2 separate regions of the Homo sapiens genome follow, and region 1 is linked to region 2. The links come from fine-mapping of genetic effects on gene expression. Tissue or cell type: prefrontal cortex. Region 2 holds a variant in brackets; the other region holds the start of a gene. All regions are shown on one strand. Distances are from middle to middle.

Evidence for each region. PIP is the estimated chance that this variant, and not a neighbour inherited with it, causes the effect.
Region 1: CYFIP2 starts here. The variant in region 2 is fine-mapped to the expression of CYFIP2 in prefrontal cortex (ROSMAP, PIP 0.95).

Annotation. Positions count from the first base shown.
Region 1 is chr5:157,261,110-157,269,215 of GRCh38, reverse strand. It overlaps CYFIP2 (cytoplasmic FMR1 interacting protein 2), which reads right to left and starts at 3,093. Exons shown (of 31, transcript NM_001037333.3): 1 at 3,021-3,093. RefSeq lists an enhancer at 1,877-1,986 and a silencer at 2,667-3,186.
Region 2 is chr5:157,375,657-157,383,762 of GRCh38, reverse strand. It overlaps CYFIP2 (cytoplasmic FMR1 interacting protein 2), which reads right to left. Exons shown (of 31, transcript NM_001037333.3): 27 at 1,101-1,173; 28 at 404-498. The region is part of intron 1 of NIPAL4-DT (NIPAL4 divergent transcript); the gene reads left to right. Among named protein-coding and RNA genes, the nearest start is that of FNDC9, 34 kb to the right of the region's middle. The variant C/T (reference allele first, on the strand shown) is at 3,778.

The DNA of each region.
Region 1 (8,106 bases), 110 kb after region 2:
CTTCATGCCCTATCACTCTTAACTTTCCCTTCCTTCGGCCGGTAAACTTGGGGCTGGGTTTACTGGTCACAGAGACCAACTTCCCTCAAAAAAGCAAAATTCAGGAAAGCTCTGGAGGGAGAGGGGCTGGTAATAGCCAAGGGTTGATTACATACATAAGCCAAATTCTTAATGATTATGTAATTAATACATTATAACAATAAATACATAAATATGCTAGTACTTACTATGTGCTAAGCATTCTGCTCGGCACTTTCATGCACCCCTTGGGTAGTAAGAGCATCCAAAGATATTCTAGTTCCTCCCCTGCCTCCATTCACTGCCAAGAAGGCAGCAGCCTGCCCCCCTTCTCCCACCATCTCACTACTGATGCAGGGGCCATCCCCTGGACCCTAGGCATGGCTTTGCTCCTCAGAATGACAGGACCAAAAGCCTTTCATAAAGACTCCAGTGAGGTGACTGATGTCTGGCTTTGTCAATTACAAGTGAATAATTAATACTTGCCAGTAAAGAAATAGACTCATTGTTACGGTGGCCACATGGAGGCTACAAAAGGCCATTTTGTGACGCTTTTGGTGGACCCCTGGGGCCAACAGTGGTCCAAAGAAGCTGCGTTGAGAGTGTAGTCCAATCTTTAAACGTAGGGACTGGGACCCGTACTGTTTTCCAGGAGCGCTTTTCCCGTTAATTAGCTTGTAGCCGATTCATCATCTCATTCAGCTTTCTGGTTGATGACAGCAGCAGAGGCCACTGAACATCAGAGAGGGCATGATTTATCAGAGGGGTCATGTAGTGTTCTACCAGGGCCTTTTACCGGTTTTTGAATTCATGTCTACTTCCTTCTCTGGGCCAGCATCTGATTTGAGTAAAACTCTCCAACCCCACTGGGTTGTACATCCGACTCTTGGCCTAATGCCTAAAGCAAGTTTTTCCTTTTTCATTTTCCAGCAGGGACTGAACAAGGCAGCCTTGGGTGCCTACAGAACCGGTCAGAACTGGCCAGGAAATATAATAAAGAAGCTTAGTGAGCAGAGAGCTAATGCCCCCAGCCAGAGGCTCAGTGCGCACAACTAGCTAGAGGCACTGACTTTGTAAGCAACAACACTATCTTCTTGAGGTCTAATAATTGCCTTGGCAAAGGGCAGCCAATGCCAACGAGGAACCCTGTGTACACAAGTTTCTCATCCCGAAAGTGGACACTGGGTGCTCAAAAAATGCCTTCTGGTGACAGTAACACCTGACCAGTCAAACAAACATGCACGCATGCACATGCATGCATACACACTCTTACAGCATTCCTGCCTGCAGGGCCAAAGCTGCCCTTGCCAAATACAGAGCTGACAGCTGCTAGATATTGTCATTTCAGGGACCCGTTCCCAAAAGAACTACCCAGCTCCCCACCTCCACTTCCAGCCCACTGTTTGAAATTCTACCATTAGTGATAGCAAATATTTCTACAGTGTTTCCCATTAAAGCTTTGTTTCCCATTAAAATGCCTCCATCCTCTGTTTCTTTTCCGGTCAAATGACTTGTAAAGCACCTGCTCTGCATCAAATGGGAACTTCTTTTGTATTTAGCTCTTCAAGATAAACACAATCATTGGCTCCTTTCTTGAAAACCATTTCTGACACTGGAGACTGGGGGAAGGGCAGGGCACTGTATGGAAGTGGAGGTGGGAGGCCACCAGGAGGGCCACAGAGAGAGGGTCTAATGGTGGAGAAAGCAACCATCAAGGCCTTCACAGGCCTGCCCAAAGATATGGACCTGATTTTTGCCCTCTAAGATCTCAGGGACCCAGGTTGCTGGCACAGCCTGTATCCAAGAGTAAGGTGAGACCCACTGCCCTAACTGGGACACAGACAGGAGGCAGGAAATGGGAACACAGGAACCGACAGTCTCCTGATTTGCCCCTCCTGCCAGCAGGCCTGCCTCCGTCTCCCTGCCCATGCTGAGGGCACAGGCACCCAGGAACTAGCAGAAAAAGATCCTTGTCCCATTCTTGGCCTAGCTGGAAGGACAGCTGATGGCTCATCAGCCCTGGTGAGTGTTTCCACTGTGCTGGGGAAAGTAGGCAAGCAAAGGTCAAAATCAGATTCCCTGTGCTGGGGAGGCACCTGGGCTGTCAGTGTCCTTTCCAGCCGGGTTCTGGATATAGAGGGCCATACTTATGTGGAACATGCTACCTGCCCCCATCCCCAAGCAGAGAGCACCTCCTCCTCTTCTTTTGCACATAGGTGGGCTGTTCTTTGGGGTGAGGGGTAGGGCTGACCTGAAAAGTAGACGCCACAACAGACAGGCAAGCATCTTCCTGGTTCTTCAGAGCTCAAGAAAAAAACCACCTTTTCCCCCAGGAGTCAGCCCACTCATCCCCTTCCCCCACTTCCACCGTGCCCGCAGCCAGCTTGGTGAGCGATGCTAGTGTAGGCCAGAAAGCTTCCAAGCGGGTCAGACCTGCTCCTCTCTCATCAAAGCCCTCCGCCCCCAAACATCGACGCTGCGCCCCTCGCCCCACCCATCACACGTTCTGTGTGCCCGAGGCGGCTGCCAGGCGGGCCCAGGCGGCTCTCGCTGGCCCTGGGGGAGGTGACGGTGGTCACGGCGGCAGAGGCAGGGGCCAGCGCTCTGCAGTACCTGGACTCGAGGATGTCGCCGCTGCCGGGCTCGCGGCCGCTGCAGGTGTCTCCGGTCCCTGAGATTAGCACCGCCTCCTCCCGGGCTGGCGGCTCCGGCCCAGGCCGCGCACCTGCTGCTGCGGCTCCCCCGCCGCCGCGCCGGAGCTCCGCGATGTGCCCGCGCCTCCCGGGCAGAGGGTCCGTGCCGCGGGACGCACGGTGGGTCCGAGGGGGAAAGGGGCCGCGTGGGGCCTGAGGCCGGGCCTCGGGCTAGCCCGGGCACAGCGCCGAGCGCCCCCCGCGGGCCGGGAGAGGGGGCGGCCCTTCGCGCATCCTCACGGCCTCATCCCCGTCCCCGGCGGCATCCTAGTCCCCGTGCCCGGCCCGAGGCCTGCGAGGGCCGCTTACCTGGCTCTGCGGCGGGTCCAGGGGAGGGGCCTGAGGCTACCGCAGGGCCCCGCGCCGGGGCGCAGGATGCTCTGCCCCGCTCCGCTGCGCCGCGCTCGGCCCCGCCCCGGCCCCGCTGCTCCGCCCGCCGCGGCTCCGCCCCCACCCAGCGCCCGCCCCTTCGCCGCAGCGGCTGTCACACAAAGGGCAGGAAATGGCTGCGGCGAGGGTCTCTCCACGCTCTCCGCTGTACCGCCGGCGCACCCAGGACCTGCCTCTCGGTTTCGGAGGACCGCTCAGCCCCCAGGCTTCCTGCCCTGGGGGCGGGAAAGGGAGGGAAGGCTTCTTCCACGGCCTCCATCACCGGGAACCACACCTGCAGCAACCCGAGGACGAGAGCTTCGGCCGCGTTCGGATCTTATTGGCCCCACATGATTTCCAAGTGCTCTTTTATCAACCCAGTCTTTATTGATTACCTATCCTGTTCCAAGTACCGTGCCAGGACTTGGGTGTGCACTGGTGTACAAAAGACAGGGTCCTGCCCCCTTGGAGTTTTATCACCTGCCAGGAGAAACAGGTGTAAATTAACCTAGCAAACGTCCAGTTACAGCCCAAAGTGCTCTGAGGAGAAGGAGCAGGGTGAAGTGACAGAAGATGCAACTGGGGCTAGGGGAAGGGGCCTTCCACCAATTGAGCTTGGTCGCTGATAGGGCTCCTTCGCTTAAGAATAAGTTCTTCCGCTCCCTTCCAGTTCCCTGGAGAAGAGTCCCTGAAGCTGCCACCTCTTTTACAGGGGCCTGCCTCAACTTCATTCTGGAAGAATTGCCTAACGGACAAATAGGTGGCAGGAAGCACTGAGAGGACAGGTACCTTTCTCTTCAAGGCTTATCTGCCGTGTCGGGCTCTTTAAAGAAGCAATTATCTGCCCAGCGGTGGCTCACACCTGTAATACCAAAACTTTGGGAGGCCGAGGAGAGAGGATTGCTTGAGCTCAGGAATTGGAGACCATCCTGGGCAACTCAACGAAACTTCATCTCTACTAAAAATTAAAAAAAAAAAAAAATAGATGGGTGTGGTGGCATCCACCTTTTGTCCCAGCTACTCAGGAGGCTGAGGTGGGAGGATTGCTTGAGCCTGGGAGATTGAGGCTACAGTGAGCTATGATCCTGCCGCCGCACTCCAGACTGGGTGACAGAGTGAGACTCTGTCTCAAAAAAAAAAAAAAAAGAATGAAAGAGAGAGACGGGGGGAGAGAGAGAGAGAGAAAGGAAGAAAGAAAAAGAAAGAGAGAGAAAGAAGAGAAGGAAAGAAAGAAGAGAAAGAAAGAGAGAAAAGAAAAAGAGAAAGAAACAATTCTCATTGAAATCCAGCCTGGTAGGCCTTCAGACCAGGCTGAAGTCAGGCTGCACCAAATTCTAACCTTGAGACACCTGAGCAGGTCACTTCACCACTCTGCTCCACAGAGGTCACCGTATCTGCAACACAGGGAATAACAGTTGCCCTTTATACCTTACAGGGTAAATAATTTGAAAACATTTGAGACATTGTGGAGTGTATGTAGATATAAGGAGTGGTTTCCTAAGGCCCACAAATTTATACTTAATCACTCAGCTGTTCCTAATAAGGGCAATTTGTGGAGGAGCCCCGTTATTCAAGCTCCAGCAAAGGACTTGTGGAAGCCTTTGCTTTCCTTTACTGATCTCACCTTATTTCCCACGTGCTCAGAATCCATAATTCCTTGTGGTTTGATCTTAAATCGCTAATTCCAATTCAAATTGCTATTTCGGAAAAAAATGACTTATATATATATATATATACACACACATACATTTCTTCCCTGGTTCAGTGTGAAAAGCTGTGGGGGTGTTTGTGGAGGATGGGTTTAAAAACAGAACTGAGGTTTCCTTTTTAAAAAATGTTTCATTTTCCACCGTGATCCTTGGGATTTCAAGTTCAGTGATTACAAATACTTAACAATGAGAATCCCAATAAATCAGATTTTCATTCTAAGGGGCATATTATTGCAGATGGTATAGTTTTTTGGAAGACGTATTTCTCCCTGTTGTTCCTTCCCTGTCTTTTCACCTTCAGGAACAAGTTGCCTAAAAACAGAAAAGACTATTACATATATATTTGGTTAGATCTTAGGCAAAAATAACTCCGACCTCTGAGTTCTATTTGTGTATAAAGGAGAGCAGTATGGTCTTTTGAAGCCACTGTGTTGGAAATCCAGAGGCTTGCCTTTTGGTTCTAGTTTTGCAACTAACAGAAGAATGATCTTAGGCAAGGAGCCTCACCCCTGTTTCCTCACCTGTTAAGTGAAGTAAGTTGGATGCTCTCCAACTTCCCTCTGAATGTGGAAAATTACATGAGTTAAAGGGCACGTCCCTCCCAGGCTTAAGGCACTTCCCTAGCTCCCCACTGCCCCCCGATGAAGCCCAAACTCTCCAGTGGCCGGAGAGGGTCTTTAAGAGCTGGCAGCTATCTCTCCATGTGAACAAGCTTGCTGTGCTTCAGCTAAAAGGAACAGCTTTTAGTTCCTCAAACTTGCTGTGTTCTCTGTTGTGCTCGACATTCGTACATGCAAGGCTTCTTCAATGGCAGTTTCTGTCCCCCCATTCCCTCCCTCCACATTCCACACTTTTTCCCAGTTTACCTGATGAAGTTCTGTTCATCTTCCTGGTATTCCTCTAGATGTCGCTTCCTCCAAGATTCCTACATGTCTGGGTTAGCTTGAGATTAGTTGTCTATGTGTCCTTAGCTGCCTGGGCTCCCTCTATCACCCCACGTATTAGTCTGCATTATAATTGTCAACACACTTCCCTGTATTCCACCATGAGACCATAAAATCTAAGGGAGCAGGGATATGTCTGTCTTGCTTTCCCATTGCATCCTTGGAGCCTGGTACTTAACAGGAGTTCAGTAAAAATGGATGGAATGAACACCCATAGGTGACATTTTTAAACTTTGCCACTGAAATGTATAGCTGTCTGTCTACTGCCTTCAGATTTCCTTCACATCCAACCCCAAGCTGTGCATCAGCAATGAAATGGTAGAGGATATCAATAAGAATTGCTTTGGTACTTGCAAAGCTGTGGCCCACATGTTGTCCATGTGGCAACATTACCTTGTGTTTTAGAAAAGCTTCAAGTTATAATCCCAGCACTTTGGGAGGCCGAGGCAGGTGGATTGCCTGAGGTCAGGAGTTCGAGACCAGCCTGGCCAACATAGTGAAACCCAGTTTCTACTAAAAATACAAAAAATTAGCTGGGCATGGTGGCGAGCGCCTGTAATCCCAGCTACTCAGGAGGGTGAGGCAGAATTGCTTGAACCCGGGAGGTGGAAGTTGTAGTGAGCCGAGATCACACTGTTGCACTCCAGCCTGGGCAACAAGAGCAAAACTCTGTCTCAAAAAAAAAAAAAATATATATATATATATGTATTTTAAAACTATCAGGAGACCCTGCTTTATAGACACCAGTAATGAAGTATCTGGAATGGGCATGAAGGGAAAACATAAATAATGATAATAATAATAATGGCTAACATTTACCAAGTACATTACCTCATTTAATTTTTCGTAATTTTTCTATAAGGAAAATACAATCATTTTTCCCATTTTTATAATTGAGGCAATTAAGGTTTAATAATTTGCCCAAGGTAGTGAAGTCAAACCCATGCTTTTTACCACAATCTCATACAGCCTCACTTTCCCTCTTCCAAGCTAAGTCCATTTGTTTACTAATATGCTACCTTATTCTAAAAACATATTAAATGTAAGTTACAGGAATACATTATGTTAAAAAATTAAAAATCAGCAAGAAATTTTTTAAAAAGAAGGAAAAGAGTAGAGAGATGAGATGGAGAATCGAATGTACATAAGACCAAAATGTAAACAAAACAAAAATCAATCACAGCTCTACCTGCTATGAGCTTGCTAACACATTTGGTTCTAAGTATTTATGTGGGTGGCAGGAAAAGATAAACTTGATGGTCAGTTACAGAATTTACATTGGCCATTCTGTAGATAGAACCTGACCACTTGCTCAAAATTGCCTCATTTTATAGGCAAGAGAATTGCTTGAGCCCAGGAGGTGGAGGTTGCAGTGAGCAAAGATGGTGCGGCTGCATTCCAGCCTGGGCAACAGAGCAAAACACTGTATCAAAACAAAGCAAAACAAAACAAAACAAAAAAGTATATCCCTTAGATTCTTGTGAAGGTTATATGAAATGATAATGTAACACACTAAGCAGAGTCTGGTACATAATAAATGCTCAAAAATGGGATTATTATTATGATTTTCTTTTTGAGACAGAGTCTCACTCTGTCGCCCAGGCTGGAGTGCAGTGGCATGATCTTGGCTCACTGCAACCTCCGCCTCCCAGGTTCAAGTGATTCTCCTGCCTCAGCCTCCCGAGTAGCTGGGATTATGGGCATGTGCCCCTACACCTGGCTAATTTTTGTATTTTTAGTAAAGATGTAGTTTCACCATGTTAGCCAGGCTGGTCTCGAACTCCTGATCTCAGGTGATCCTCCCGTCTCGGCCTCCCAAAGTGCCAGGATTACAGGTGTGTGCCACCACGCCTGGCCTGTGGCCATCTCTTGTTGCTATTGTGGTGAACTCAAGTGTTGCCAGTATCCACTTCAAGTGCTGTGTGATGCTAATCATCTCTGAGTGAGCAATTCATCTCTCATGATGAAACATTTTTCATCATGTTTAGTGTAATACAGCAAACCTTGAATAACACCATGGAACCCACATGAAGTGACACTAGTGATGCTGAAAGTGTTCCCAAAAAGCAGAGAAAAGTCATAACATTACAAGAAAAAAGCTGAATTTTCTTGATATGTACCATAGATTGAGGTCTGCAGCTGCAGTTGTCCATCATTTTAAGATGAATGAATTTAGCATAAGGACCACTGTAAAAAGAAAGAAAGAAAGAGAAAGAGAGAAAGAAGGAAAGAAAATTCATGAAGCCGTAGCTGCGGCTCCCAGCAGGTATGAAAACCTTGCACTTTTTGTTAAATACCATTTTAGCTCATATTGAAAATGCAGGTTTTAGGTGGGTGCGTTGCTATAAAGATTGCTATAAGAAAGACGTACCC
Region 2 (8,106 bases):
AACAATGTTACATAAGCATCTAGTGTTCCGTTAAGTGTTTCTTTAGCAAAAGTATCCAGAAGTGAACTGCTGGCTCACAGAGTATGTGGAGTTTTAATTTTCAGAGGCAAAGTAACAGATTCTTGATATCTACCAGGGACACAGTAGATACTTGTTTAAATAAGCAGACGACTTGTTGGCAGGATACATGATACAGGCTACAGAAGAAACACTCAGGCCTGAGAGTCAGCAAATCTCATTCCAGACCTGCTGTTGCTATTAATATTAACCAGTTTTTGGGTATTGGACATTGTCTTCCCTTCTCTGAGCCTCAGTTTCCTGACCTGTACAATGAGGGGGTTTGGTCAAATGCTCTCAAGTTCCTGTCAGTGATCAGAGCCCATTTATTATATAAGATTGGTACCTGAGGGGTCCCCAGCCGCTCGATCAGAGGGACCAGGTGGAGCGGGGCATACTTGGCTTCCAGACGTTTCATCCGGACCTCCAGGCGCTCCCCCTCTGCAAAAGGAGTCGCAGAGCAGAAAATGAGACTCAGGGAACACAGGGCAACTGGGGAAGGAAAAACTCCCAAAGGACCTGATGATGTATCTGCATTCCAAAAATGGGATGGAGTGTGTGGAACTGCTCTCCTTCGTTCTGGAAAGTGTGAGTAGTTTTTACAAGGAAAAATGTTCTATGATTTGTCCAAGAATGGAATCGTCTGCCTTCTAGAATATCTCTAGTATAGTGGTTTAATATATTAATATATATATTTAAATTCCAAGTCTAGATATCACTATACTAGAGATATGTTAGAAGGAACAAGGGACAGGGCCTGGAGTGTCATTTCTATAATCTTATAAGGAATTTGTTGAAGAATTTGAATGAATGACAGAATCAAAGATAATAGGCCTCAGAGTCTGTCTGGTTGGTCATGAGGTCAGCAGGCTCAATGCAGGTGGCTAGGTCCATCTTCCAATTTGTGATTCTGTGGCTATTCAATAGGTGTCCAAAGCTTTAACCTTCCCCCTTGCTGACTAGATCTGAGTTGACTGCAATTAGGAAGTGAGAATAAGGTTCAAACGCCAGTTGGCTATTCAGCTGCTGTAGTGGTTTCTTACCTTTGATGTAGACTCTAGGCAAGATGTTTTGGAAGGGTGCGGCATGGAGCAAATCGCAGACCTCCTCCTGAGACTGCAGAGATGGGGGTAAAGAAAGAGAAAACAATTTTCATTTTAAACCAGGAAGATTTTTCATTCCTAAAAACCTGAGCACTGGAGTTAGCTAGACCTGGGTTCAAATCCTGGCTCTTCTACTCACTGTGACCTTGGGCAAGTTACTTAGCTTCTCTGAGTCTTTTTATCTATCTGCAAAATAAGGATGAGAACAGTACCTATTTTAATGGGTTGTGAGGATCAAACGAGAAAATGCATAACCTTGTGGAATAGTCACAGGTACATAATGAGAGCTCAATACATTTTTACTATAATCTTATCAGGAATTTGTTGAATTAGGATGGATTACACAGAATCAAACATATGATGGGCCTCAGTCTGTGTCTTTTTGGTTGTGAGGTCTGTAGGCTCAAGGCAGGTGGCTAGGTCAGTCTTCCAGTCTACAAATCTAGGACTCTGTGTAAAGGCCTATGTCTGATTGGTTTTCTCCACACCAGACATCAACTAGCAAGAAAAGAGGGACGAGAACCCAGGCCAGATTGGTTTCAATGGTTATTTGTTATGTGCAAAGATAAACTTAAAAGCAAACATACAGTGGTTGGAGGGGAAGCTTGGTTAGGGCAAGACGGGAGATAGGGTCTCATGGGCTTACTGTCCTGGGACATGCTCACAATCCCTGGATTTCAGAACAAAGGGGAGGGAAGGAGTCTGGAGAAGCCATCCTCTGCCGGGGTTTGCTTTCTCTTCAACTATGGGCATTTGGATTAGGTAGGATCCAGGCTCCATTTCAAACTCTGACACTTTGGGATTCTAAGCATCTGAGAAAATCAAGATTGCAGGTGTCCTTGCCTTCTTCTACCCCGGGCATGGATGGAACACTGCCAATCCAGGACTCTGAAAGGCCAGCTGTTCAAGAGGGGAGCCCCAACTCCTGTTTAACTGCAGATCAGTCCTAGAAATGAGGCTACCAGAGGAAGAACACTCTGCAGTCCCCTCACAGGAGCCTGATCTGACTGTCATTCTCAGTTTCTTATCCAGAGGGGAAACTTCCCCCTCACCCCTTTTTTTTTTTTTTTTTTGTGAAACGGAGTCCCATTCTGTTGCCCAGGCTGGAGTGCAGTGGTATGATCTCGGCTCACTGCAGCCTCTGCCTCTTGTATTCAAGCAATTACTCCTGCCTCAGCCTCCTGAGTAGCTGAGACTACAGGCGCTCGCCATCATGCCTGGCTAATTTTTTTTTTTTTTTATCATACCTACAATGTGATAGCATTTATTTACATCTAAAAACATGTACAATAATGATATGTATTGTTCAGTGATACATATGTACAAAGTAAAGTAATAAAGAAATTCGTGGGAGTAAGAACTACCAAATCCAGAGTAGTGGTTATGTCTCAGTGGAAAGGGAAGGCAAGGTAGTATGTGGTGGAAAAACACAATTTTTATTCTATTTACAATGTTTTCTTTCTTAAGCTGGTGGTCGGATATATAGGTCCGTATTATTTCACTCTGTTTATCATTTTCTATGTTTGAACCTGGCTAATTTTTGTATTTTTAGTAGAGATGGGGTTTTGCCATGTTGGCCAGGCTGGTCTCAAACTCCTGACCTCAGGTGATCTGCCTGCCTTGGCCTACCCAAGTGCTGGGATTACAGGTGTGAGCCACTGCGCACGGCCCTTTCCTCCTTTCTTAAGTGAGGTGTTTGTTTCTTTCCTTTCTAGTAAATCCCATAACCTGGCCTTCATTGCTATGTCTAAGCTTAGATCCTTTGATTCATCATATAACCTGAAAACTTTGCTTACTGATCATTCAGGCTAATCTTTCATATTCACATGGTGAATTACATTGGATGATTTTTGAATGATGAGTCAGCCTTGCATACCTGAAATAAACCCACTTGATTATATTATACTTTTGATGTATTGCTCGATTTTATTTGCTAACATTTTGTTGAGGATTTTTGCTCTGTATTCATGAAGGATACTGATTTGTAGTTTTATTTTCAAATGCCTTAGGTTTTGGTATTAGGGTAATGTTGACCTCAAAAGATGGGGAGAGTTCCCCTTGTTTGTATTTTTTGGAGACAAAACCACCTTTCCAAAATTATAACAGGGGACATTATGACAGTGAAAGAAATCAGACCTAATGAACCTCATTTTGCTTCTAACCTGGAAGCTGTTCTTGTTCACTCCTGGGCAGAGGCCGGACTAACTTGGGGAATGAATTCAGTTCATGGTTTGTCTCTGAAACAAAATTGATCATAGCCCTTTCCTGAAAAGACCCCTTTCTTGCCTGAGGACCAGTCTGCCTTTGCAGGACTAACAAATTAGCTACAAGATTAGAAATTACAGTTTAGGGGTCACGGAGCCTCTGGCTCCAAGAGTCTGAACCTCCCCAATTGCCCCTGGTGATAACATCATTATTGTAAAACCCAAGATCAGTGCTTGAGATATTTTGCAGACCCTGCACTCCAGTGGATCAGCTGACACCATCCAGACTGGTATCTGGCTCAAGGAGTTCTGCCATCTCACCCAGGAACAGAAAACAGCAAGAGAAACTCACTTCGACCCTCCATGATTCCATCTCCAACCTGATCAATCAGCACTCCACGCTTCCTAAGCTC[C/T]TACCTGTCAAATTATCTTTAAATAATTAAATTATTTAAATTATCTGATTCCCGAATGCTCAAGGAGACTGATTTGAGTAATAATGAAACTCCAGTCTCCTGCATGGCCAGCTTTGCATGCATTACTCTTTGTCCCTTGCAATTCCCCTGTCTGGATAAATAGGCTCTGTCTGGGCAGTGGGCAAGGCGAACCTGCTGGGCGGTTACAGAGGAGACCATGTAGAATTGGTACTATTTCCTCCTTAAATATTTGATGGAATTCACAAGTGAAACCATCTGCGTCTGGTGTGGGTTTTTTTTTTTTTTTTTTTTTTTTTGAGACAGGGTCTTGCTCCCTTGCCTGGGCTGGAATGCAGTAGTGTAATCATGGCTCACTAGTCTTGACCTTCTGGGTTTAGGTGATCCTCCCATCTCAGCCTCCTGAATAGCTGGGACTACAGGTAAGTGCCACCAAGCTGGCTAATTTTTTTGTAGAGACAGAGTTGGGAGTTTTTTTTTGTTGGAAGTTTTTTTTTATAAGTAGGAATGATATTTCTTTAATAGATACAGCACTATTCAGCTTATCAATTTTTAAGTGAGTTTTGGCGGTTTGTGTCTCTTAAGGAATTGGCTCCTTTCATTTAAGTTTAATTTATGGGGTAATTTCCTCAGTCTTTTGTCCTTTCATGGAAAGGAGTCAAGATACTAAATCCTGTTACCAAAAGCAGCAGTAGAGATGTAAGTATATTATCTATAATCATATAGATATGACAAGAGAAAACAACAGAAGCAGTAATATAATCAAATTTTGAAAGGAAGAGAGGGAGAGAGATAAATGAGATAAAATCTCATCTTTCCAAGTAGGGAGTCAGTAAGTATTGTCTAAAGTTGCTAATTAAGAAATAGGTTACCCTCATGAGTGTTATGGAGGTAACTGGAAGAACTGGAAACAGGATAGGCTGCCCTGGGAATTGGGAATGCAGGTGGGCAGAGGTGCAGTGGAGCCAAGTAGGATGTTTTTCATCAAAAGCTCATCTGTAGTATTTGATTTGTTATAATGTGCAATTAAGAACTTAATGGAATTAAGTTATAATGTGCAATTAGCAACTTAAACAAAATGAAGAGGCTGGATTAAATGGTCTCCAAGTCTCTAGAACCAAGAGTCTGTAAAATACAACCACTTTTCTCTTCAGAGAAGGAGAGGCAATGAACATTACTGAGCACTAACGAATGAGCTATTTGCTTTCTGTCAGTCGCCTGCTTTATGCTTCTGGACAGCCCTGTGAGATAGGGCTCACTGTCCCCATCCTGTGGACAAGGACATCAAGGCTGGTAGTAAGGTGAACTTTCCTAACTAGGTCCGCACACAGATGCTTAAATAAGCAGTAAGGCTGACATTTCGATCCAGGAGCCACTCCACTTCGACACCCGTTGTTTTTCCATGGCAGCCAATGCAGCCAAAGCCTTGGGAAGCCTGACTTTCCCCCTTCATTATATATACATGTCATTAAATTGCAAAGTTACCAAGAATAGAAACAGAAAATCACTTAAAATCTTAACACCTAAGAAACTTCAGCCTCACTCACATCTGACAGGATCATATCATTTGTTGACTTATTGGGTTTTTGGTTATAGCAACTAACATTCTTGAAACTGTGGTATATATGCAGTTTGAAGAAGAACAAGAGTCTGAGCTACCTTCTTCTGTACAAAGAAATAGGAAATTACTGATACCTTTATTCCCAACTTCCAGAGGTAGCCTCAATCCTGAATTGGTTTAAATAATTTCTTTGCAGATGGACTAATTTTTATAAATCTGTTGATGTTATTCCAAGTCTATAATTAGACCACTCACGTCAGTTTGTACCCAAAAATTCCTTCTTCCCTGACCCTCTTACCCCCACCCAAAGTTTTCTACCCAGTCTTATCCATCCCATAAAGCCCCATTTAAGTTTTACCTTCTAGGAGTCTTCCAAGCCCCTCCAGCCCACAGTGCCTTTGCTTTTTAAAAACTTACCAGAGCTTTTATTCATTCAGGGCTTCCACTAAGCCATCTGCACATTGGGCTGTCTTATCTAGCCCAGGGTCCTGAAATCTGAGCTGCTGATGGAGGACCAGGGCAGTGACCCACATCTCATGTAAACATTGATTGAGAATCTTCTTGAGGGACAACCCATGTGCAGGACCTGCACGTTCTCTATATTTTTCTCATTGGCATGATATGAGAGGCCAGCAAGAATACAGAGAACATGTGTATAATAGGATCTAGATACCCAACAAGGTTGTACCAAATTCTGAAGACTTTCATTCTGACTTGAATAGAGCCTGAGCCAGAGATTGTCATTCTTTCATTTATATAGCAAATAATAGGCACAAGGCTTTCTGCAAGGTGCTGGAGTAGGTGAGGGAGACCAGATGCACAACCCTTACCAAGATGATGACAAAATAAGTCAAAACTAGAATGGGCAATTCTAGTAAGTGCTACAATTGGGGTATGCCTGGGGTCTATGGGGATGCAAAGAGGAGCAACCAATTCAGACTTTTGGGGAGGATGATAGGGAAGACTTTCTGAAGAAGGACGCTAAGTTGAACCAGGGGTGAGTGTTGGACAGCTAAGGGGGAACAGTACCTGCAAAGGCCCCAAAGCAAGAGGCCACAGTAGGGCAGGGCTGAGAGCCAAGGTAGACTGAAGCTTTCAGTGCTAGAGGAAAGTGATGTGAGACAGGAAGGAGGGGTGGGCAGGAGTGGTTTGGGAAGAATCTTCTAAGCCTCTCTTAGATTTCTAGACATTATCCTGATGGTTTTCATCAGGGAAATGGCCAAGCTGCAGTTTCACCTTCTGGTTGCAAGGGAGAAAGGATTGGGGAGAGCAAAGGGGGTGTTGGAAGAGTCCAAGCAGGAGAAAGCAGGGCCAGGAGTAGCGGCAAAGGAGATAGAAGGAAGTGAGCAGAGGCCAGAGACCTGATGACTGGACCTGAGGGCGGGAGTAAAAGGACCCCTGCCCAGGGCACCTGTATGACGTTGGTACCGTTTATGGAGTCAGAGAACAGCAAGGCTGCAGGCAGGAGGAAGCCAAGGTCAGATTCAGGCAAGGTAAATTTCTGATGTGTGTGGACACGGAAGAGAAGATGTCTAAAAGGCAACTAGATGTGAGGCCTAGGCCCTGCAGAGTCTGCAGAGTAGATCTGAGCTTGGAAGTCAGCATGGGATGGAGGCTGACCCCAGGGGAAAGGAACTGTGCAAGTGCAAGGTTTGCATAAGTGGGTGCTTCTCAGGGTGACCAAGACCCTTCCGGAGACTTCAGTTCCTCTGACTATATGAGACCCAAGAGAAAAACAGCACAAAGTGCTCCTTGAGTTCAAGGGAATACATAAATTCTGAACATTTCCATGTCTACTAGCATACAACCTAAACAGGGATAAAAAGACACCTTTCAAGTCAGAAATAGGGAAGATGCCACTTCTCTGCATTTGCTGCTACCTCTTTATTCCTTTCTTTAGGTCACCAAATATCTATTGAGTGCTTGCTCTGTGATCTGGCAGACAACTCAAAGGCACAGAGATGAAGATGAAACACACCATGGAGCCAGGGAAGGGCCTGGATGCTGTGGGAAACACTACAACAGGTAGAGCTCTGTAAAAATGAGATTTCAATGAAGTTTACCATCTAGTGGAGAAGAGATCCAAGGACACCCGTGACTGAGAAATAAAACAGAATCAATTGGGTGCAATAGGAGAAGTTGCTGACAAAGGGCTTTGGAGACTGAGAAGAGAGAGAAACACCACCAAGTTCCTTGCAGAGAAAGGCATTTGATAAAATGTGTGTTGAATAAAAGGACCAGCGGTTTGTGGAGGATGAGGAAATGATGGCTGTGAGATGGGCCTGAGAGGAGGGGCAGGGTTTTGAACTGGGAGGAAAGGTGCCATCCCATTCAGGAGGAGGATGAAATCAGGGATAAAATGAGGTGGCTGATATGAAAGGAGTGGGGCATCCTTGGCTTGGGCTTGTGAGGAGTGTGGGCCACAGTGCTATGGGCAGTCAGGAGCCAGGCTTTCAGTTCTAACGGGGCTTAGAGAAAAGGCCGATTCAAGTCTCTTTGCTGATGGCAAGAGGAGGAAAGGGGGCTCTTGGTAACCGAGGACCTGCTTCTTAAGCGCTGGAGACTTCGCATTCATTACCTCACTTAACACTAAGAACTCTGTGAGGTAGCTCCTCAGTCCCAGCACTTTTCAGGCGTGGAAACTAAGGCTTAGAGAAGGAGTGTACCATCTTTTGGCTTCCCTGGGCCATACTGGAAGAAAAATTGTCGTGGGCCACAGATAAAAATAAAATACACTAACAACAGCTGAT